Regions from separate parts of the Homo sapiens genome. Here region 1 is linked to region 2. A link means that fine-mapping ties the variant in region 2 to the expression of a gene that starts in the linked region. Tissue or cell type: whole blood. Region 2 holds a variant in brackets; the other region holds the start of a gene. All regions are shown on one strand. Distances are from middle to middle. Region 1 holds the start of REEP5 (receptor accessory protein 5). Region 2 overlaps REEP5 (receptor accessory protein 5).

What was found. PIP is the estimated chance that this variant, and not a neighbour inherited with it, causes the effect. A credible set is the group of variants that fine-mapping cannot tell apart.
Region 1: it holds the start of REEP5, and the variant in region 2 is the best candidate, but not a certain one, in a credible set for the expression of REEP5 in whole blood (TOPMed, PIP 0.55).

What each region holds. Positions count from the first base shown.
Region 1 is chr5:112,916,655-112,928,432 of GRCh38, forward strand. It overlaps REEP5 (receptor accessory protein 5), which reads right to left and starts at 5,573. Exons shown (of 5, transcript NM_005669.5): 1 at 5,419-5,573; 2 at 4,509-4,602. The coding sequence starts at 5,536. LOC105379123 (a long non-coding RNA gene) reads left to right here and starts at 5,733. Exons shown (of 3, transcript XR_948675.3): 1 at 5,733-7,002. RefSeq lists silencers at 4,764-5,213, 5,574-5,843 and an enhancer at 6,976-7,095.
Region 2 is chr5:112,889,825-112,901,543 of GRCh38, forward strand. The region is part of intron 3 of REEP5 (receptor accessory protein 5); the gene reads right to left. It also overlaps a transcript of SRP19 not described here and the pseudogene ZRSR2P1. Among named protein-coding and RNA genes, the nearest start is that of REEP5, 27 kb to the right of the region's middle. RefSeq lists an enhancer at 1,433-2,632 and a silencer at 6,995-7,044. The variant G/A (reference allele first, on the strand shown) is at 3,846.

The sequences.
Region 1 (11,778 bases), 27 kb after region 2:
CATCTCTACATAAGGTGATGTTGTGTTTGTGGGACATTCAAAGAGCCACAAGGGAGGTAGCATAACGTAATCATTAAAAGCATGAAATTTGGAGCCAGATTCTTTGGATTTAAATACCAGTTTCATCATCTGCTAGTTGTGAGACCTTGATCAAGTTATTCAAATTCTCTTTCTGTGTTTCCTCATCTGTAAAAATGGGAATAATCATAGCACTTACATAATAGGGTTGTTCTGAGGATTAAATGAGCTATATTTGCAAAGCACTTAGACAGAGATATGTACATATCTGTTAAATAAAATGCTACACAGATTTCAGGAGTCATACAAAGAGCTAAATGCAATATAACTCTTTACACCAGCAGCAAAAGTTTAAAATGGGCTTGTGAGGACACACAGAAACTAAAATGACACATTACTGAACTGGGTATGAGATTTCAAAAGTGTTGTTAAAGATTAAATATATAGTGCTGGACTCTCGTCTTGAACTCCTGGCCTCAAGCAATCCCTCTGCCTCAGCACCCCAAAGTGCTGAGATTACAGATGTGGGCCATCATGCCCCGCCCCCTAAACATATTTAATCTTTCTAACATTGGCACTAAAATATGCCTAAATGTGCTTTACATTCCTGTGTAGTTCCAGACCAAGCCTGGCCTCTGTGTGACCTTGGGAAACACACTCCACCTTTCTCTGTCCCTGAATTGTCATTTTAAAACTAAAGGAACTGGACTACCTGTTTGATCTTTAAGGCCCAACTCTGATAGTCCCAGGAAGGTGGCAGCCCAAGTCTTAAGGAAAATATGAAATAAAAAGAGGAAAAGTAATAGACATTTTTATAGAATTTTAAGCAAAAAAGTTACTGGGTAGGACAGAAAGCAAACCTTCCCCTTTCCTTAAATAGAAGATAAAGTCTGAGTTTGCCTCACAATTCCATTTGTACAAAGGAGCAAGTACAGGACTAGGGCCCTGGCTCACTAGCGCCCACCCTGGAGGGACTGCACCAGGAGGACTTACTCACATATGAGGGTGCAGCACAGCATACACCCTCCAGAGGACTCTTATTTGTGCAATCCCATTAGAAGCAGGGCTGCACCAGACATTAAAGGCCATATATTGTATGATTCCGTCTACATGAAATGCTCAGAATAGGCAAACTCATAGAAACAGAATGCAGATTAGTGGTTTCCAGGGGCTGGGTAGGAGGAATAGGGAGTGATTGGTGATGGTTTCCCTTTGGGGTGATAAAAATGTTTTGGAATTAGACAGTGGTGATGGTTACACAACTCTGAACATACTAGCCACTGAACTGCATACTTTAAAAGTGTACAATTTATAAGTATCTAAATTATATCTTAGCAATGGGGGGAGGTCTATCTTTATAATAAACATTTCCAGTAGTCTGCCTCCTGTTATCAGTAAAAGAGGGAAGTAAGGAGATTAAGGTAATTATGTCAACAGTTCTTGATGAAAGGAAGGCTGGAATTAGATTCCGAATTGCCTATATAAGATGGCCAAAAATTCTAGAAACTAGAAGTCAGAGATGAAAGACCCTGTTCTCAAAGAGCTCAAAGGGAAATTATGCACACGGAAAGAACAACCAGTAGGAAGAGGGGTATACAATAAGGTACTGGTTGCTCCCCAGTGAGCACTGGGCAAGTCTTCAACCATCTACATGCTCCAACGTGCAGCAGACCCTGACCAGGAGCCAGGTGCACCTGAGCTTCACTCACAGACTTCCAAAGGGAGTCCAAAGGGAGAAAAGCTAGGAAGCCAAGTGAGCTTTTCCCAATTTCATCTTTGCATCCTGCAGTCTCTTGACCCAATACTGACACTACTCCCCTTCTTGTGATGGCCCAAGGAGAGGAAACAGCAAGAGAAAGGCTGAAAGGTGAGAAAGGAAGGAAGTAAATTACTGGCAATAGTTTGGCAAGATCGCGAACTCCTTACAGAGGTCACAGCAGCCAAAGTGACCTTAAAATATAAATCGTATCATGTCACCCCCTATTTAAAACCCATCCAAGGCAATCAGAAAATGCAAACTCCCTACCACCATCTGGAATGAAATGCACACTTCTACCACTGACCCTACCTGCTGGCACCTGCACCTCTCTGGTGCCTCCCCCACCACTCTTTGCTCACACAGAGCTAAGCTGTGTGCTGCCTCAGGGCCTGACACACTCTTCTCCCTCTCCCTGGCTCTGCTCTTGGCTGGCCCCTTCTCATTCCTCAGGTCTTCTCTACCAGAACTGTTTATTTACTTTAGAGGGCTTACCACACGGTCACTACTTTGCCTATTTCTTGCCTGGGTAGACTGCTCATTCAACAAGGACAGAGAGTATGACTACCTTATTTCTTGCCATATCTAAAGTGCTACCACAGTGCCACACATGTGACTGGCATTTGATTTTTGCTAAATAGATGAACCTGTATTTTAAAAAATAACTCTGGCTAGGGAGCATAAGAGTTACAAGAGGTATGGAGAATAGTTAAAATGAAGGTGACTGCTATGGTCTGAATGTTGTGTTCCCCCAACATCCATATGTTGGGACCTAATACCCAATGTATTAGTATTAAATAGTGGTGCCTTTAGGAGGCAATTAAGACATGAGGGCTTGGCCAGGTGTGGTAGCTCACGCCTGTAATCCCAGTACTTTGGGAGGCTGAGACAGGTGGATCACCTGAGGTCAGGAGTTCAAGATCAGCCTGGCTAACATGGCAAAACCGCATCTCTACTAAAAATACTAAAATTACTCAGGCGTGGTGGCACACGCCTGTAATCCCAGCTACTAGGGAGGCTGAGGCAGGAGAATTGCTTGAATTTGGCGGGGGTGGGGGCGGCCAGGGATGGCGGTTGCAGTGAACTGAGATTACGACACTGCACTCCAGCCTGGGCAATATAGAGCGAGACTCTGTCTCAAAAGAAAAGAAACAGGCATGAGAGCTCTGCCCTCATGCATGGGATTCGTGTCCTTATAAAAGAGGCTTGAGGGAGCCAGTTGACCCTTCTACCATGTGAGGAAGCAGTGAGAAGATGCCATCTTTGAAGCAGGGAGCAAGCCCTCACCGGACACCAAATCTGCTGGTGCCTTGGTCCTGGATTTCCCAGCCTCCAGAACTGTGAGCAATAAATTTCTATTGTTTATAAATTATCCAGTCTAAGGTATTTTGTTATAGCAGCCCAAGCAGACTAAGACAGTGTTCACAGGTCACACTTTAAGCAACATGGATTTTGATGCTACTAAAGACCACCATTTTCAAATACTTTTTCTTTCTTTTGGACAATTATACAATCATATTGGTTATGCAATGAACAGACTTGATTAGACTAATGTAACACCGACCGCCTGAATATTTGCTCACGGGGGTCTGTATGCTTTATTCTGTGCACACAATCCCGTTTTTCCTTGAGTCTCCTCCATAAAGCAGAGCCCGGGGTAGGCCTCAGGGCTATATGTAGCTAGACTTTCTGGAGTATGACTAAGTGTCTGTACCGGACTAACACAGTAACAACTACTAGGTAACTGCAATTTAATTGCTCAAATCAGAACTAACTTCTAAAACATGTTTCTTCCCTTATAGTCATAGACTAAATTCTAGCCTAACTAGTGACAGATACAAGCTGTAATAATGTGTTATCTGTGTCTTAGCCTCCTAGGTGAAAATTTTTTCTTCCTTTATTTTTATCCCTATGGTTGAAGAAAGTAGCAGAGACCAACTGAATGAAGGTAAAAACCACTGGCTTTCTTAGGAAGAACTGTAGAGCAAAACAAAATTCATTTCTGGAGAGGAATAATTCCTACTTGAACGAATGGAAAAATAAAATCGTAGAATTAAAAAAAATAAACACATTGTAGAATAAAAACAACTTTGGTAATAAATTCAGATCCTAATCGTAAAAATTCATTTTTTAAGTAGCTCAATTATATAAATGACTCACTTATATAACCAAGGAGCTATATCATGGAGCATTTTTAAAGGTTTTTGTTTTTACACTAGGGTAAGCATTTCCCAAGTTTGTCTGTAACATGTGGCTTTTTCAAAATAAAAGAAAATGAGAAAATTCTCCCTACTGTCTCAATTAACGTAATTATGAATTAAGGAAGACCTAATTGATAGGGTTTTACTCTCTAGGTGCATAAATATATGGTGAAATACTCATTAAAATAATTACTAGACAGAAGTGCTCAGCTCCCTGTACCTTCTGAGATCCTCCCACCAGTAAAGGGAGGACGACAGAGTGGTAGCGCTTTCCTGTTAGTGTGCCAAAGAGAGGGGACACTGGTCACCAGGATAATCTAATGAAAATACCTCTGGGCTAATCGTCAAGAGATAGGGATTAAGTTAAGGTTCCAAAATGGTGAATACTATCCCCACCCCTTATGTCCAACCTCATCCCTCCCCGCCGAGCTTTCACTTTTCTCCCGGGAATTGCGGATGTGCAGTCTACTGCAGCAGCCCTGCGGGGAGGAATGGAGGAAGGGAAGGGGACGGCTGCAGGGTGTGTCACTTACGAGATGTAGGCTGGGTAGCCAAATCCTATCAGGTTGCAGAGGAGAGAGGCTCCATAACCGAACACCAGGTACAAGGCCACCAGTCCGATGACACCTGGGGACCACAAGGAGAGAAGTGGGTCGGGCAGCATGAGAGCCGTTCACGCGGGACAGCCGCCGCCCACACCGCGAGGCTGGGCCTGTTGTAGGAGTTTTCCTCTCGACTCGATTAAAGGAGCGAGAAAAACAAACCACACGAAAGCTGGGCCTGCGCGTCCGCTGGGCTATGCCTTGAAGTCTGGGGATACCAGGCAGCCCCACCATTGTGCCTCTCCTACCTCCCGCAGGGGGCCCCGGCGCTTTGCGCAGCAACCCCCGGCGCCCGGGACGGTCCCAGGCACCCGCTTCCGCCCTCTCGCAGGGCCTGCTGGGCAGCGCTCCAGCCTGGGAAGCTGCGCTCAGCGGGGAGCGTCCCGAGAGGCCCGGACTCCCGCACACGCTGCAGTAGCAGCCCCCGCCCACCCGAGAGGCGCCCTCTCCGGGCGGAGCTCCACGGAGGGTCGGGTAGGACCGGGTACCTCCGTCAACGCGCCCGCCCGCAGGGGCCCCGCCGTCCGCGCCCACCGCGCAGGACAGCAGGAATAGGGCGCCGGGCCGCGGGGCAGACATACGTCAGCGCTGGCCCTTCCAGCTGCCAGCGCCCGGCGCCGCAGCTGCCCTCCAGCCCCGCGACCCTCAGCCTGGGCAGCCCCCGCGGGGTCCTCCGATGCCCACGCTTTCCGGGAGGCCAGCCTGATCCCTGAATATGCTGCTTGTCCCGTCTGTCTCCGACTCCACCTTTCCCGAGTCCTCTCCCTGCTTCCTTCCCCAGCAGCTGGGGCAGCGGCGGCTCCCGTGGCCCTACCAGCGGCGGCGACCCCCGGCCACCCACCAAGAGCGATGAAGCTCCTGTTCACGCCGGTTTTGGCCTCGAGCTTGGCCAGAAGGTCAGTCATGCAGTTCTTCTCGTGCAGGAACCGGTCGAACCTCTCCCTCATGGCCGCAGACATGGCGGGGACCGTCTCGCCGCTCGGGGCTGTTCCTAGTGCCGGATAGACTGGAGCGGCGACTGCGGCGGAGCAGCGGCAGGCGGGGACCGCGGCGCGTCTACGCGTCCTCCACTCGCCTCCGCTCGCCCCGCCCGGCCGCCGCGCGCCCCTCCTCGGCCGCCGCGCGCCCCTCCTCCCCCGCCCAGCGCCAGGGGGACAGCGCCACACCCTGGCGGGGGCGGGCCTGCAACTCCGCGGACGCTGCGAGGTGGCCTGCCTGTTGACAGTCTTAACCCATTGCGGGGTAAAAAGGATGTGGCGTGGGGGCGTGCATTTTGTGTCTCTCGTGGGTCCCCTTCTCAAATCGGACTATTGCAAAAAGCAGGCAGAAAGGAGGCAGGCGTCCTTGTTGCTCCCGCCTGCAATTCACTGCGATGAGTTTGGCACCTACATTGCTGTGCTAAACCTAAGGCATTTTTGACCTAAAAAATTGAAATGTTTGAGCATCGTGAAAGAACTCTTTGGAAGCAGTCCTGCTTTCTCCCTCTTTGCCTTAACTTGGCAGTTTTTCTCACCTACAGACAATCGTTGCCTTGTAAAGACCCTTGAAGAAATCTAACACATCCTCCCTGGGGTACACCTTTTCCAAGCAAAAACTGCATTAAATCTTTTCATGGTGGGCTTGCGTTGTCTTGGTGTCTGATACTGTGGCAAGTGTCCAAATTCTCTCTGTGGAGCCAATATACTCTGCACTTCCTACAGTCAAAATACTCTGAAGAAGACGGAGATTCTAAGGTCCAAGCCTTAGGGCAGGAGCTCATTTTTGCTTCCTTCAGAATGAGTTGGCCATGCTCTTCCTCCACCTAAACCTAGGCTCCTCTTATCTCACCCATATGACTTCCAGACACTCCTAAAATTACTCTTGTTGACTCCTATTCTGCACACTGCTGCAGAATTTTTGTCCGAAGCTCCGTATTATTATCCTAACAGACTAGAGCTCCCATTCCTTGGCAGAGCATTCAATGCCCTGCCCACAACTGGCCCCGAACATTCTGTCTTGGTCCTACACAACCCCTCTGTGCTTTCAAATCTACTTAATTACCCTACTGCCTTCCACTTCTGCAAAAAGTTATCTTGCCCACGCCTAGCTTTTTCCTTTTATGCTAATTCTCCTTCCTCCTTTCTTCCTCAGAGCTTCTTAGCTCAGCTTTCTCAGCTGTTCCTACCACCACCCAGCCAAATCAGTGAACAAGTGAAACAACCTGCTGTCTACTTCTGTCTTTTCACCTACAGTTAATTCTCAATGTGGCAGACAGTAGAATCTGTTTTAAAATGTGCGTCAAGTTGTGCTATGTTTTTGTTCTCAACCCTCCAGCAACTTCCTATCTGCCTGAAGGAGGGCATCAGGGTCACAGGTGACATGGTTCATCCCTCCCCTTTCTGATGTCTTCCCTTACTGCCTCCCTCCTTGCTGTGCCTCAGACAAGGTAAGCCCATTCCTGCCTCTGGGCGTTCGTTCACTTTTCTTCTATTTCAGTGGTTCTCAACCAGGAGCACTTCCTCTCCCCTTCTTCCTCCTGGGGGGAGGAGTAGCAATGTCTAGAGATACTTTCGTTGTGAAACAGATTGTCACACAAGGAGAGCAGGAGGTGGCAAGTGCAACTAGCATCTAGTGGTTAGAGACTAGGGGTGCTGCTAAACATCCTGTAACACACAGGACAGCCCCCACAACAAAGAATTATCCAGCCCCAAATGTCAATAATGTGACAGTCCAGAAACCCTCCTCTATCTGAAAGTATCTTTCCCCAGTTAACCATTTAACTGTCCCCTTCCATTATTCAGATATTTGTTCAAATGGTACCCCTAATCTCAAATTGCAACCCCCAGTGGTCTCTAGCTTGATTTTTCTCCATAGAATTTATTACTGTCTGGCATTATGTTCTACTTTTTTTTTTTTTTTTTTGAGACTGTCTCACTCTGTCACGCAGGCTGGAGTACAGAGGCGTGGTCACAGCTCACCGCAGCCTCGACCTCCTGCTGTGCTCAAGCCATCCTCCCACCTCAGCCTCCCAAGTAGCTGGGACCATAGCCGTGTGCCACCATGTCCGGCTAATTTTTTCTGTTTTTAGTATAGATGGGGTTTCACTATGTTACCCAGGCCAGTCTTGAACTCTGTGATCTGCCCACCTTGGCCTCCCAAAGTTCTGGGATTACAGGTATGAGCCACCACCATGCCAGACCATGTTCTATTTTTAAATTATCTTTCTTTCCTCACTAGATTATGAGCTCCGTGAGGGTAGACATTTTTGCTTATTTTATTTGCTTCAATATTTTAAGCACATTGAACAGTGCCTGGCACTTAGTAGTTGTTCAATAACTATTTGTTGAATTAATGAATGAATGAATATCTAACATGTGTTGTACCACCCAGTATTCCAAGTGTTACGTGGACTAGTTCATTTAATCCTCACAGCTGCATGAGGAAGATGCTACCTGTTTCATCCTCATTTAAGGAAAAAAAAAATGAGACATAGTGAGTTCCCATATCACAATAAGTGGCAGAGCTAGAATTCAGAATCAGGCTCTTACCCCTATATTACATTGCTATTATGGGTTGAATTGTATTCTACCTCCCTAAAGAAGACATGTTGGAATCCTAACCTACAGTACCTCAGAGTGTGATCTTATTTGGTAATAGGGTCTTCAAAGAGGTAGTCAAATTCAAATGAACTCCTTAGGGTGGACCTCAATCCAGTGTGACTGTTGTCCTTATAAAATGGGAAATTTGGCCAGGCGCGGTGGCTCACACCTGTAATCCTAGCACTTTGGAGGCCGAGGCAGGTGGATTACGAGGTCAGGAGATCGAGACTATCCTTGCTAACACGGTGAAACCCCATTTCTACTAAAAATACAAAAAATTAGCCGGGCGTGGTGGCGTGCACCTGTTGTCCCAGATACTCAAGAGGCTGAGGCAGGAGAATGGTGTGAACCCAGAAGGCAGAGCTTGCAGTGAGCCGAGATCAAGCCAATGCACTCCGGCCTGGGCAACAGAGCGAGACTCTGTCTCAAAAAAAAAAGGGGGGGTGAAATTTGGACGGAGACAGATGCATATAAAGGGAAGACTGTGAAGAAACACAGGGAGAAGATGGCCATCTACAAGCCAAGAAGAAAGTCCTGGAACAGATCATTCCCTCACAACCCTCACAAGGAACCAATCCTGCTGAGACCTTGATCTTGGACTTCCAGCCTCCAGAGCTGTGAGATAATAAATTTCTGTTTTATTTATTTATTTAGAGACAGGGTCTCACTGGGTCACCCAGGCTGGACTGCAGTGACACAATCTCCACTCACTGCAACCTCCACCTCCCAGGTTCAGGCAATTCTTCCACCTCAGCCTCCCAAGTAGCTGGGGCTACAGGTGTGTGCCACCATGCCAAGCTAATTTTTTTTTTTTTTGTAGAGATGGGGTTTCACCACACTGGCCAAACTGGTCTCAAACTCCTGACCTCAAGTGATCTCCCCATCTTGGCCTCCCAAAGTGCTGGGACTGCAGGCATGAGCCACTGCACCTGGCCTCAATTTCTATTATTTAAGCTACCCAGTTTGTGAGACTGTTACAGCAGCCCTAGGAAACTAGTACAGCTGCTTAGCAGAATAACTGAACTGTAAACTTCAAACCAGTTGTGAGTTTGTATAATTTCCTACTGAGTACAGTATGTATATTAAGTTGGGGTTGTTTTTGAATACTTAAAGTGATTCATAATTTGATTTTTTTTTTTTTTTTGAGATGGAGTCTGCCTCTGTCACCCAGACTGGAGTCCAGTGGCATGATCTTGGCTCACCGCAACCTCAGCCTCCCAGGTTCAAATGATTCTCGTGCATCAGCCTCCTGAGTAACTGGGACTACAGGTGCACACCACCACGCCTGGCTAATTTTTGTATTTTTTTGTAGAGATGGGGTTTCACCATGTTGGCCAGGCTGGTCTTGAACTCCTGACCTCAAGTGATCTGCCTGCCTCAGCCTCCCAAAGTGCTGGGATTACAGGTGGCCACAGTGCCGGTCCTGATTTTTTTTTTTTTTTTTTTTTTTTTTTAGACAAGGTTTGACTGTATCACCCAGGCTGAAGTGCAGTGCACAATGTTGGCTCACTGACCTCCACCTCCTGGGCTTACGCCATCCTCCCACCTCAGCCTTCCAAGTAGCTGGGACTACAGGTGTGCACCACCACACCCAGCTAATTCTTGTACTTTTTTGTAGAGATGGAGTTTTGCCATGTTGCCCAGGCTGGCCTCAAACTTGTGAGCTCAAGTGATCCGCCCATCTCAGCCTCCCAAAGTGCTAGGATTACAGGCATGAGCCGCTACACCCAGCCTCACAATTTGATTGTTTTATTTATTATTTATTTATTTTAGCAAAGGAGCAAAATCCTTTTAAGTTAGGTATCCAAATCAACCTAGGTTTTTGTCACTACATTTCATGCAGTGGCAACATTTGTACTACATTAACTATGCATGGAATATCTAGAAACATATTGTTCATTTGCATTTCTTCCTTTCTTCCTTTTTTTTTAATTTTTTTATTTTTCAAGACAGGATCTTACTCTGTTGTCCTGGCTGGAGTGCAGCGGCACCATCATGGCTCACTGGAGCCCTGACCTCTTGGGCTCAAGCAATCCTCCCACCTTGACCCCACAAAGTGCTGGGATTATAGATGTGAGCCACTGTGCCCAGCCCTTGGCTTTCTTTCTGTAAATATTGCTCTTTTCAATTTTCTCTTGACATAGATTCCAAATTTCTTCTTTCTTCAAGCATTCAACCAATGGTGAGGCAAAGCAGTATAGTGAGGCATAGTGTGGAGTTCTATCTCTGGATTCAGTCTGTATGAGCTAAATCCCAGCTCTACCATTTAGCTATGTGACTTTGGGCAAGTTGCATAAGCTCTCTGTGCTTCTGGTCTCTCATCTGTAAAACAAGGATAAAAATAGTACCTATTTCACAGAGTTCTCATCATGGTTAGGTGAGTTACTATTTGTAATGTTTTTAGAAGAGTACTTGATGCAAAATAAGTGTTTAAATAATTTAAGAAAGAAAAAAAACACAGCTAGGTGTAATTTTTTTTTTTTTTTTTTTTTTTTTTTTGAGACAAGGTCTGGCTCTGTCACCGAGACGGGAGTGCAGTGGTGTAATCTCAGCTCACTGCAACCTTTGCCTCCTAGGCTCAAGCCATCCTCTCACCTCAGCCTCCCAAGTAGCTGGGACTACACGCACATGCCTCCAAGCCTGGCTAATTTTTGTATTTTTTGTAGAGATGGCATTTCACCATGTTGCTCAGGCTGATCTTGAACTCCTGAGCTCAAGCAATCCTCCCACCTCAGGCTGCCAAGGTGCTGGGATTACAGGAGTGAGCCATCATGCCCAGCCTCTAAAATTGAGATAGAGAAATATTACATTATTCTTGACTTTAGTAAATTACAATCAGATTCGGGGAGTATGGGATCCTAGTTTATCCCATCAGCACTGTAAACCTTAGATTCTTTCATAGCAGAGGAAAGAGATGCAGAAAATAAGAACCCAGAACCCTGCCTAAGGTCTCAAACTATTCACTTACTCATATTTACTAAATATATCCTGTGTGCCAGATGCTGTTAGATCTGGGAACTAGATAGATGAGATCTGTTTTGGAGGCTGTGAAGAAGGTTGGCCTGGAACCGGTTGACACTGGCAATTTTTTTTTTTTTTGTCCCCCAGGCTGGAGTGCAGTGGCGCAATCTTGGCTCACTGAAAGCTCTGCCACCTGGGATCATGCCATTCTCCTGCCTCAGCCTACTGAGTAGCTGGGACTACAGGCACCCGCCACCACACCCGGCTAATTTTTTTTTTTTTTGTATTTTTAGTAGAGATGGGGTTTTGCCGTGTTAGACGGGATGGTCTCGATCTCCTAACCTTGTGATCCGCCCGCCTCAGCCTGCCAAAGTGCTGGGATTACAGGCATGAGCTACTGCACCTGGCCAACTTTGGCAGTTTCTAAGGAGGAAGTTGAACTGACTTGGGATGAGGCAAATACTATTATTATACCCTCTGTGAGCTAGAGAAGAAAATTCTGCTGGAGAACTCAGATCAGGTCACTTTTGTTCTACACAAACTGTTTCTTCAGGGTAAGAAAACAAGTTGAAGTCATCAAACACATTTGTTCTTACTCATGTTAGGAAGAAGAGGTACAGCATAATTTGTCAGGTAATCTCTTCCTTCCTTTCCCCCACCCC
Region 2 (11,719 bases):
AAAAATTTTTTTTTTTTTTTGAGACTGATTCTTGCTCTCTTACCCAGGCTGGAGTGCTGTGGCACAATATCAGCTCACTGCAACCTCCGCCTCCCGGATTCAAGCGATTCTCCTGTCTCAGCCTCCCAAGTAGCTGGGACTGCAGGCAAACACCACCATGCCCAGCTAATTTTTGTATTTTTAGTAGAGACGGGGTTTCACCATGTTGGCCAGGCTGGTCTTGAACTCCTGACCTCAAATGATCCACCCCCATCGGCCTCCCAAAGTGCTGGGATTACAGGCGTGAGCCACCGCACCCGGCCACAAAAAATAAATTTAAAATTAGCCAGGCTTGGTGATGTATGCCTGTGGTCCTCCTGGGAGGTTGAGGTGGGAGGGTGGCTTGACCTTGGGAGGTCGAGACTGCAGTGAGCTGTGATACCATCACTGCAATCCAGGCTTGGTGAGACAGCAAGACCCTGTCTCAAAAAGACAAAAAAAAGTTGATATATAAAACAACCTAGAAATTAGTAAGAATACAGAATAAAGAACACAAAATTTAAGTCTTTTTTTTTTTTTAAATAAAAAAGGGTTTCACTTTGTCACCCAGGCAGGAGTGCAGTGGCACAAATACAAAACACTATAGCCTCAACTTCCTGGGCTCAAGTGATTCTCCCGCCTCAGCCCCCCAGGTAGCTGAAGACCACAGGCATGCAGGCACGCACCATCACGTCTGGCTAATTTTTGTACTTTTTGTAGAGATGGGGTTTCGCCATGTTGGCCGGGCTGGTCTCGAACTCCTGACCTCAAGTGATCCACCCATCTCAGCCTCCTAAAGTGCTGGGATTACAGGTGTGAGCCACTGCACCTGGCCTAAAATCTCACTCTAAAGATATATACAGATCTCTCAACCCAACAAAGAGGGATTCAAAGAGTTAATATAGTATATAGAGAGTAACAGGATGGACTCAAAGAAACTAACTTCCAATCCTGGTTCTGCCATTTACTAGCTAAGCAAACCTTATACAAGTTACTTAATCACTTAAGTCTGGTTTTTCCTCTATAAAATAGGTATTAATTGAAAATTTTAAAATTTACCCCTATAATTTTGTAAGAAAATAAAATTACTAAGCATAGCAAGGACTTTCTCTGACCCAAGAATACTGTGTTTTCTAACAACATCTATGAAACATTACTAACAGGAGAACATGTTAGCTTTCAGTAGGGGAAAGCAAATCCTAGAACCAAAAATATTTAAGCAAATATTTATTTTTATTTTTTATTTTTGAGACAGAGTCTCACTCTGTCACCCAGGCTGGAGTGTAGTGGCACAGTCTTGGCTCACTGCAACCTCTGCCTCCTGGGTTCAAGCAGTTCTCCTGCCTCAGCCTCCCAAGTAGCTGGGATTACAGGCACGTGCTACCAAGCCTGGCTAATTTTTTTATTTTTAGTAGAGATGAGTTTTTGCCATGTTGGCCAGGCTGGTCTCAAACTCCTGGCCTCAGGTGATCCGCCCATTTCGGCCTCCTAAAGTGCTGGGATTACAGGAGTGAGCCACCGCACCTGGCCATAAGTAAATATTTTAGAACTCTCCTTTTAGTACATGAAATGAAATTCAAATTTATGATATACTTAATTACAAAAAAAGTCTAACTGCAATATAAAGGAGAAACAAAATGAAAGTAATTTGTAATATATATAAGTATGCAAACAAAACAATACTAGAAAACATAAAATATTCATAAGTAGAATCACTGACAGTGGCAGCTATGAACAAAATCTTCCATATATTCCCATAGGTTAAGAATGTCTGAGGGGTCAGGCGGTGCTGGCAAGATGGCTGCACTTGAGAAGATGACGTTTCCCAAGAAGATGACATTTCCAGAGAAACCAAGCCACAAAAAGTACAGGGCCGCCCTGAAGAAGGAGAAACGAAAGAAACGTCGGCAGGAACTTGCTCGACTGAGAGACTCAGGACTCTCACAGGAGGAGGAAGAGGACACTTTTATTGAAGAACAACAACTAGAAGAAGAGAAGCTATTGGAAAGAGAGAGGGAAAGATTACATGAGGAGTGGTTGCTGAGGGAGCAGAAGGCACAAGAAGAATTCAGAATAAAGAAGGAAAAGGAAGAGGCGGCTAAAAAATGGCTAGAAGAACAAGAGAGAAAGTTAAAGGAACAATGGAAAGAACAGCAGAGGAAAGAGAGAGAAGAGGAGGAGCAGAAACAACAGGAGAAGAAAGAAAAAGAGGAAGCTGTGCAGAAGATGCTGGATCAGGCTGAAAATGATTTAGAAAATAGTACCACATGGCAAAACCCAGAACCACCCGTGGATTTCAGAGTAATGGAGAAGGATCGAGCTAATTGTCCCTTCTACAGTAAAACAGGAGCTTGCAGATTTGGAGACAGATGTTCACGTAAACATAATTTCCCAACATCTAGTCCTACCCTTCTTATTAAGAGCATGTTTACAACGTTTGGAATGGAGCAGTGCAGGAGGGATGACTATGACCCTGACGCAAGCCTGGAGTACAGCGAGGAAGAAACCTACCAACAGTTCCTAGATTTCTATGAGGATGTGTTGCCCGAGTTCAAGAACGTGGGGAAAGTGATTCAGTTCAAGGTCAGCTGCAATTTGGAACCTCACCTGAGGGGCAATGTATATGTTCAGTACCAGTCGGAAGAAGAATGCCAAGCAGCCCTTTCTCTGTTTAACGGACGATGGTATGCAGGACGACAGCTGCAATGTGAATTCTGCCCAGTGACCCGGTGGAAAATGGCGATTTGTGGTTTATTTGAAATACAACAATGTCCAAGAGGAAAACACTGCAACTTTCTTCATGTGTTCAGAAATCCCAACAATGAATTCTGGGAAGCTAATAGAGACATCTACTTGTCTTCAGATCAGACTGGCTCCTCCTTTGGCAAGAACTCCGAGAGGAGGGAGAAGATGGGCCACCACGACCACTACTACAGCAGGCAGCGGGGAAGGAGAAACCCTAGTCCAGACCACACCTACAAAAGAAATGGGGAATCCGAGAGAAAAAAGAGTAGTCATAGGGGGAAGAAATCTCACAAACGCACATCAAAGAGTCGGGAGAGGCACAATTCACCAAGCAGAGGAAGAAATAGGCACCGCAGCTGGGACCAGGGCCGCCGGAGCCAGAGCCGCAGGAGCCACCGCAGCCGGAGCCAAAGTTCCTCTAGGTGCCGAAGTCGTGGGAGGAGGAAGTCGGGTAATAGAGACAGAACTGTTCAGAGTCCCCAATCCAAATAAACTAGTTTTGTTCTTAAAAAAAAAAAAAAAAAAAAAAAGAATGGACCAGGCCAGGTATAGTGGCTCACACCTGTAATCCCAGCACTTTAGGAGGCTGAGGTGGGTGGATCACTTGAGGTCAGGAGTTTGAGGCCAGCCTGGCCAACATGGCAAAACCCCATTTCTACTAAAAATACAAAAATTAGCCAGGTGTGGTGGCAGGCGTCTGTAATCCAAGCTACTTGGGAAGCTGAGGCAGGAGAATCGCTTGAATCTGGAAGGCGGAGGTTGCAGTGAGTCGACATCATGCCACTTCACTCCAGCCTGGGTGACAGAGCGAGACTGTGTCTCAAAAAATAGAATTTTTGGACTAGTGGAACTACACAGCCTGCTTTCCATATCAGACCATTCAATCCAATGGGATTCACTGCCATAATCTCCATGTTATGATTTTAAGCCAGGCCTCTCTTCACCTTTCCTATTCCTTACATTTAAAGACTCCAAAGCTTGTTTACTGAGCACAGATCTTGGAAAACAGGATCTTCAGACTTGGGAAAGCATGACAGTAGATGATGGAAAGGTAAAGACTCAGACTAGCATCTAGTAGTCTC[G/A]CTACACATGGATAGTAATGCTACGTGCATGAATGTGCAATCATGCAAAAACTCAAATCAGCCTTCTGCACACACACAATGGTAGACTAAGACCTTCTGTTAAAGGTCCAAGCACTCCAAGGAAGCCAGCGCCTTGAGGTACCCTCAGTATGTGCAAGTAGTTCGATGTTACTCTTAGTTTTCCCAGCAACTCTGCTCTAGCATGCCCTAAGTTTAGCCAGCAGCAGATCTTACTGAATTATAAGATGTTGCCAGAGGTTCAGAACCTTGGTTTTTTTGAGATACGCATTTGCATTGACCCAAAATGGAGAATTAAATGACTGTATTTTTCACTGGCATTAGCTTTGTTTCCTTGGCATAGTGCCAGTTAATTACAGCAGACCCTGCAAGACCACCTCTCTAGTTATTTCCCTGTGGAAGCCTTTTGGTTGGTTTTGTTTTTTTGGTTTTTTTTGTTTTTTTTTTTTTTTTGAGACGGAGTCTTGCTCTGTTGCCAGGCGGGAGTGCAGTGGCGTGATCAGCTCACTGCAACCTCCGCCTCCCAGATTCAAGTGATTCCCCTGCCTCAACCTCTCGAGTAGCTGGTACTACAGGCGCATGCCACCGTGCCCAGCTAATTTTTTGTATTTTAGTAGAGACAGGGTTTCACCATGTTGGCCAGGATGGTCTTGATCTGACCTCGTGATCTGCCCACCTTGGCCTCCTAATGTGCTTAGGATTATAGGCGTGAGCCACTGCACCCTGCTGCCTTTTGGTTTTTAATATCCAAAATTCATACAATGTTTTACTGTAGTTGCTTATATAGGAAAAGCTATACATCCCCAAAATGCAATACAACATTATGATATGCAGGAAATGTCTTGAGTAACATTTTTGACAGAATATCAGAATCCTTGGTGGACATTTTGAAGAATATGCAGAGCATCACAGGGGATGTGCTATGTATTCCTGCACACAGAGCAATTGTTACTTACTATATTAACTATTTGGAGAGCAGCAAGTGTTTTTAGCATCTAACATCCTAACATGATATTTGTTATATATAGGTATTTTGCTGTATTTTATTAATACTTAGTGAATTCGTTGAGTTTTACATTGACATGTAATACATTAAAATTTTTCCCACTTAAAATAGTGGAAAATAAGCTTCTGCATAGAATGTATTCCTACATAGAATATCTGATTTTCAGAAATGGATTATCAAGAGAGAGACAGATGTCCATATTAAAACCAGAGCATTAAGGTGAAGTGAAAATGACTCATTGGATTAAGAATCAGGAGAGGTGGGGCTGGGCGCAGTGGCTTACGCCTGTAATCCCAGCACTTTAGGAGGCCGAGGCAGGTGGATCACGAGGTCAGGAGTTCGAGACCATCCTGGCCAACATGGTGAAACCCTGTCTCTACTAAAATTAGAAAAAAAATAGCCGGGCATTGTGGTGGGCACCCGTAGTCCCAGCCACTCAGGAGGCTGAGGCAGGAGAATCACTGGAACCCAGGAGGCGGAGGTTACAGTGAGCTGAGATTGCGCCACTGCACTCCAGCCTGGCGACAGAGCGAGACTCTGTCTCAAAAAAAAAAAAAAAAAAAAATCAGGAGAGGTGGGGTGTGTTTTATGACTTTAGGCAAATCAACCTAAGAGACAGTTTTCTCTTCTGCAGAGTTTTAGGAAAGTCACAAATTAATGTACTTGAAGAAAGTGTACAATAGAATAGTAGTATTACCAAATCCTAAAGTTCTTATTGTGGAAAATCTCTGAAATATTACCTGCCTATGTAGATGCCAACCCTTCAGCAATCCAGACAAGCTTATTATCTTTTCTGGATGAATTAAGTGTCCACAGTTTTGTACCTCTTCAATGTGATTACTTTGTAGGCTAGACTGCAGACTGTTAATTGACTACTTTCTGGTACCCTCTAGCTATTGTCTTGAGACAGTAAAATAATTACTGCTCTCTAGCTACATCCTTAGCATTTTCCTGTTCTGAAATGAAATCATTTTCTTATGTTAAAAATAAAGTTAATTACTGTTCAACTCCCAAGGTGATATTCAGCTGCCACCTCTTACAACCCTCTCTTCTTAATCTGTGTAACTATTCTACAGCCCAGGAATAGCCTGAGTTTATTAAAGTCACCCACACAGATCTGGCTCTTTTCAATCAAGCTGCCCTCAAAGTGCCAGCTGATGATACTCCCAAGGAGACTCACAAGCCCACTGCTGCCTGCAGTTCAGACAGAGTCCATGCTATTTTAACTGGACTCTTGGCACTATTAGCACTGACACAATGACTCCTTAAATTACGAATTACAACAGGCCATTCTATTCCGTCTGTGCTTCTAATGCTGTCACCATGTGATTTTCCCCCAGAAGAGATATTTCCCAGGTAGGGGTATGCTTAACATGCAGTTACGGAACTGAGAGTTAATGTCAGAAGAAAGCTTTTGCAGTGTAGCCACAGAATAGTTACAGGCTACATTGCTCAGCATGCACAAATAAAAGCTTAAAAGAACGTGTTAAAGGAAAGATTTCCCTGTCTTTTTAGCCTCCTACGAACATTAAGAAGAAAAATGTTGCGAGGCACAGTGGCTTACGCCTGTAATCCTAGCACTCTGGGAGGCTGAGGTGTCCAAGAGGATCACCTGAGGTCAGGAGTTTGAGACCAGCCTGGCCAACATGGTGAAACCCCATCTCTACTAAAAATACAAAATTTGCCTAGCGTGGTGGTGGGCACCTGTAATCCCAGCTACTTGGGAGGCTGAGGCAGGAGAATTGCTTGAATGCGGGAAGTACAGGTTGCAGTGAGCAGAGATCACGCCACTTCACTCCACTCCAGCCTGAGTGAAATAGCGAAACTCCATCTCAAAAAAAAGAAAAAAGAAAAGAAAAATGTTATATTCTCTGTCAATGGGTGAAATAGCACAGGTGACAATTCAGGTCAGGACCTAATCTTGCCAGAGTTTACTCAACCTTGTTCTAAAAATAAATCTAGCCAGGCCTGGTGGCTCACGCCTGTAATTGCAGCACTTCGGGAGGCTGAGGTGGGTGGATCACAAGGTCAGGAGTTGAGACCAGCCTGGCCAACATGGTGAAACCCCGTCTCTACTAAAAATACAAAAATTAGCCGGGCGTGGTTGTGCACCTGTAGTCCCAGCTACTCGGGAGGCTGAGACAGGAGAATCACTTGAACCTGGGAAAGAGGTTACAGTGAGCAGAGGTCACGCCACTGCACTCCAGCCTGGGCGACAGAGCAAGACTCCGTCTCAAAAAAAGTAAAGTAAATCTAGAAAATGATTTAAATGAAGGTAAACAGAGGATACAAAGATATTAATTGCAGCATTATGTATAATCGCATGACAAATGTCCTCAATGTCTTTCAATTGGGAAGTAGGTAAATTATCAATAACATTAGATAGCTATGTCAAAAAATACTGAATAACATGAGAAAATACTCAGAATACTGTGTTAATTGAAAAAAGCAAGACACAGAATTATATATCATATGTGATCTAAGCCACACATATGTTAAGACAGCAATACATACATATATATATACACATACACACAGAGTTCTGTTTTTATTTATATACACAGACCAATATATTTGCACATTTTAAAAAATAGGAAGACTACTCTAAGATGTAGGATTACAAATGTTATTTTCCTCCCTACATAAAACACATCCCATCACACACACACACACACACACACACACACACACACACACACACAAATGTAAACAGTAGGACAACAAGGACTTTGTTTTATTCGCCAAAGTATCTCCCAGATGTAGAACAGAATCTGGCACATGGAGGTTCTAAATAAATCTGCTGAATAAAGGAATGAGCATATGTAAATTTCATAATCAAGAAAAAAAGCTTTTAAATTTATTTTTAAACCCTCTTGCTCAAGGCCAGATGTCAGAGCAAAGCTCAGAATATGCATGATCCAATTTCTACCTAAATACATCATATATTATCTTCTCAACTAAGCTTTGATGCCAAGCCATTGGCTCCTTTTATTTTCCTCCAATCTTATCAGCTGCTTTAGAAAAATGAAAATAAAGCCAACAATATTAACTCTGCAAAAAATAAAATATTAAACATGTCCTCGGGCTGGGAGCAGTGGCTCACACCTGTAATCCCAGCATTTTGAGAGGCCGAGGCGGGCAGATCACTTGAGGTCAGGAGTTTGAGACCAGCCTGGCAAACACGGCGAAACCCCATCTCTACTAAAAATACAAAAATTAGCTGGGTGTGGTGGTGCGTGCCTGTAATCCCAGCTACTTGGGAGGCTGTGGCAGGAGAATCGCTGGAACTGGAGAGGCAGTGGTTGCAGTGAGCCAAGATGGCACCACTGCACTCCAGCCTGGGTGACAGAGCAACACTCTGTCCCAAAAAACAAAAAACAAAACAAACCCATGTCCTTACTTGTAAGTCTCTTTCCCACACTTCCAGTCAGCATGCGATTGCAACAGCATAGGTAAGATGGATTCTAGTCCCTAAAATTCAATACTCTCCTGAACCTTCTCCTACAGACGAGACTCTGCAATTCAGAGGCCTCTTCTCAGTCTGTTCACTAGGTCATTCAGAGTATGCCACTAATGTAGGAAGAAAGTATTTTGATTGACAGCATCATGAATGTTTAATCCTTTCAAGTATGTTATCTATTTGGAATGTATGCAATAAATTCACTTTCATGAACACTATGATGCCATGCAGCTGGAGACTACTAATGGATGCACATTCATTTTACCATTAGGGAAGAAAGTCTGCTACAAAGCAATATTTTAAATGAACTTCAAAACCAAATATAAATGATTCAGTGACTACCATTTATTTTGGATCTTCTCTCTACCTCTCTGTGAACTCCATTAGCAGAGGTGATTAGGAGTAGGCTAGAAGTCAAGCTTGCTCACATTTGGAAGTCTGAGGTCAGAACTACTGCAAGTAGTTCTGCTGACAAGATAGTGTTCACTGCCACAAGCAAGTGGGCCCAAAGCAAAAGCCAATTTCTTTCCACTAAAGACTACTGTGAGGTCCCTACGATTAGATGGATCTTATTAAGGGCTTTAAAATTATCTGAAGTTTAAATTATGTCATGTCCAAATTAAAGATTGTAAGAATATTTTTATAAATGTTAAATGACTTTGAATAATAAAAACAAAAAAATCCAATCTTTGAAATCAACTCTTTCCACAGACCAATTTTTATTTTCTTCCATCAGTTTTGAAAGGAAAATTCTTAATTGCCTTACAAGGCATTCTGTGGTGAAGTCATTCAAAAATATAAAAGAATCTATACTGAGCATGTTTTCATTTAATTTTTTAAACTTTAAAAGACACTCACTTCATATAGTGTCTTGTCTTTTTTCTTTTTTAACCATAAATGGTGTGATACTGTATTTAATGTTCTATTACTTTTTTTCTTTTTCGAGACAGGGTCTCACTCTGTCACCCAGGCTAGAGTGCAGTTGGGTGATCATTGCTTATTGTAGCCTTGAACTCCTGGGCTCAAACCATCCTCCCACCTCAGCCTCCTGAGCAGATGGGACCACAGGCATGCACCACCATGCCTGGCATTTGTTTTTTGGTTTTCGGTTTTTTTTTTTTTGGTCAACATGCTGTGATCTGGGAGCCTGGTTAATTTTTAAATTTGTGTGTGTGGAGACAGGGTCTCACCATGTTGCCCAGGATGGTGTCAAACTCCTGGCCTCAAGCAGTCCTTCTGCCTTGGCCTCCGAGTATGCTGGGATTACAGGCAAAAGCTAGCACAACTGTCCTGTATAACTTTTCATAATTACTAAATTATGCAAAAATTTCTGGGTCTGTACATATGGATCTATTTCATTCCATTTAACTGTATGGATATACTATTAATTGAATGAACCATTTACCTGCTGATGGACATTTCTGTTTATAATGTTTACATTATGCAGTTCATATTATATACAGTTGACAACAAAAAATGCTGCCATGAATATCTTTGTGCAGCTCTTTAATGCACAGTGACTATTTCCTTAGAATTGTTAAGAGTATCATTTTTCAATTCAACAAGAAATGGTTAAAAGGTCCCTTAAAAAGGTTATTCAAGTTTATACCACTAGGCTGTTAAGTATCCCTTATGTGAAATGCTTGGGACTAAAAGTGTTTCGGGTTTCACATTTATTCAGATTTTGGAATATGTACATTATACCAACTGAGCATACCAAATCAGAAACTCTAAAATCTAAATGCTCCAATGAGCATTTCCTTTGATCATTATGTGGGCACTCAAAAAGTTTGGGGTTTTAAAGCATTTAGGATTTCCAATTTCAGATGTTCAGCCTGTACCATTACATGTCCATTTCCCTATACATTCACCAATACCAGATATTTTCAATCTTTAAAATATCTGCCAGTTTAATGAACAAAATATGGGATTTCACTATTTTAACTCACACTTCCCACATCACTGGTGAGCTGTTTACTAGCCATTCATATTTTTTCTCTTCCGTGAAATACTTAACTTAGAACCTTTTCCCATTTTCTTTTTCTTTTTACTTATGGAAATTGTTATGTATTCTGGATATTCCTTATTTGGTGTAAATGTTGTAAATCTATCTTCCTAGTCTGTCATTATTTTAACTTTGTTTATGCTGCCCACTGTCATATAGAAATTTAATTTTTAGAAATTTTTAGTTGAATTTATCAAATCTTTTTCTTTGAAACTTTTGTATTTTGTCTTGCTTCTATACCTCAAAGTTAAAAAATATTGTCCTCTACTTTTTTCTAAAACAGAGGTTTTGGCATAAAAGTCCTGTCTTTGCAAATCACTCAGGAAAACAGGTGGACACTAACTAAAGGCAGTTACTTCCCTACCCCTCCTGCTCCAACCCCTAGAGCTGTGAACTATAACCCAGGATCACTTCCTTTTGATGCTGCTTTGCTGGGGTAGAAGGGGACTGTACAGTGAAGCTTTGACCTGAGGAGCTCTTCTGTAGGTGAAGAGTGGTTAACTATGGTTCCTGTGTGCCTGGGGCCCCCCACTCCTAGGACTCATCCACCCCCTACCCAGAACTTACTAGTACTAGCATGGACTGGGGCCCCCTCCATTCCAGTGCCTGATGGGATAGCTGATACTCATGGATGAAAAGCAGTTTGTAGGCTAAAATAAAAAGATATTTTAAGAATATATTTCTTTTTTTTTTTTTAGAGATGGAGTCTGGCTCTGTTGCCTAGGCTGGAGTGCAGTAGTGTGATCTCGGTTCACTGCAACCTCTGCATCCCAGATTCAAGCAGTTCTCCTGCCTCACCTCCTGAGTAGCTGGGACTACAGGTGCACTCTGCCACACCCAGCTAATTTCGTTTGTATTTTAGTAGAGACAGGGTTTCACCGTGTTGCCCAGGCTGGTCTCGAACTCCTGAGCTCAGGCCATCTGCCCGCCTCGGCCTCCCAAAGTGCTAGAATTGCAGGCATGAGCCACCACGCCTGGCCAAGAGTACATTTCAAAAGAAAAACAACACAATCAACTACAAGTTTTGGTCAGGAGCAACAATATTAGAACTGCTGACCAAGAATTTTAAACTGGGGAGCGGTAACCATACTAAAAGAAATGAGAAAATATTAGCAATATGAAACAAGGACAAGAAGAAGAGAGCCAAGCAAAAACATTAGGTGTGAACAATATAATAGTTGAAATGAAGAACACGGTATATAGCAGGAATAACAGAATGGTTATAATGTAATCATGGAGTACAGTTGAAAATTAGATGGTCAGATTGAGTCCGGGCACGGTGGCTCACGCCTGTAATCCCAGCACTTTGGGAGGCCGAGGTGGGTGGATTGCTTAAGGTCAGGAGTTCGAGAGCACCCTGGCCAACATGGTGAAACTCTTTCTCT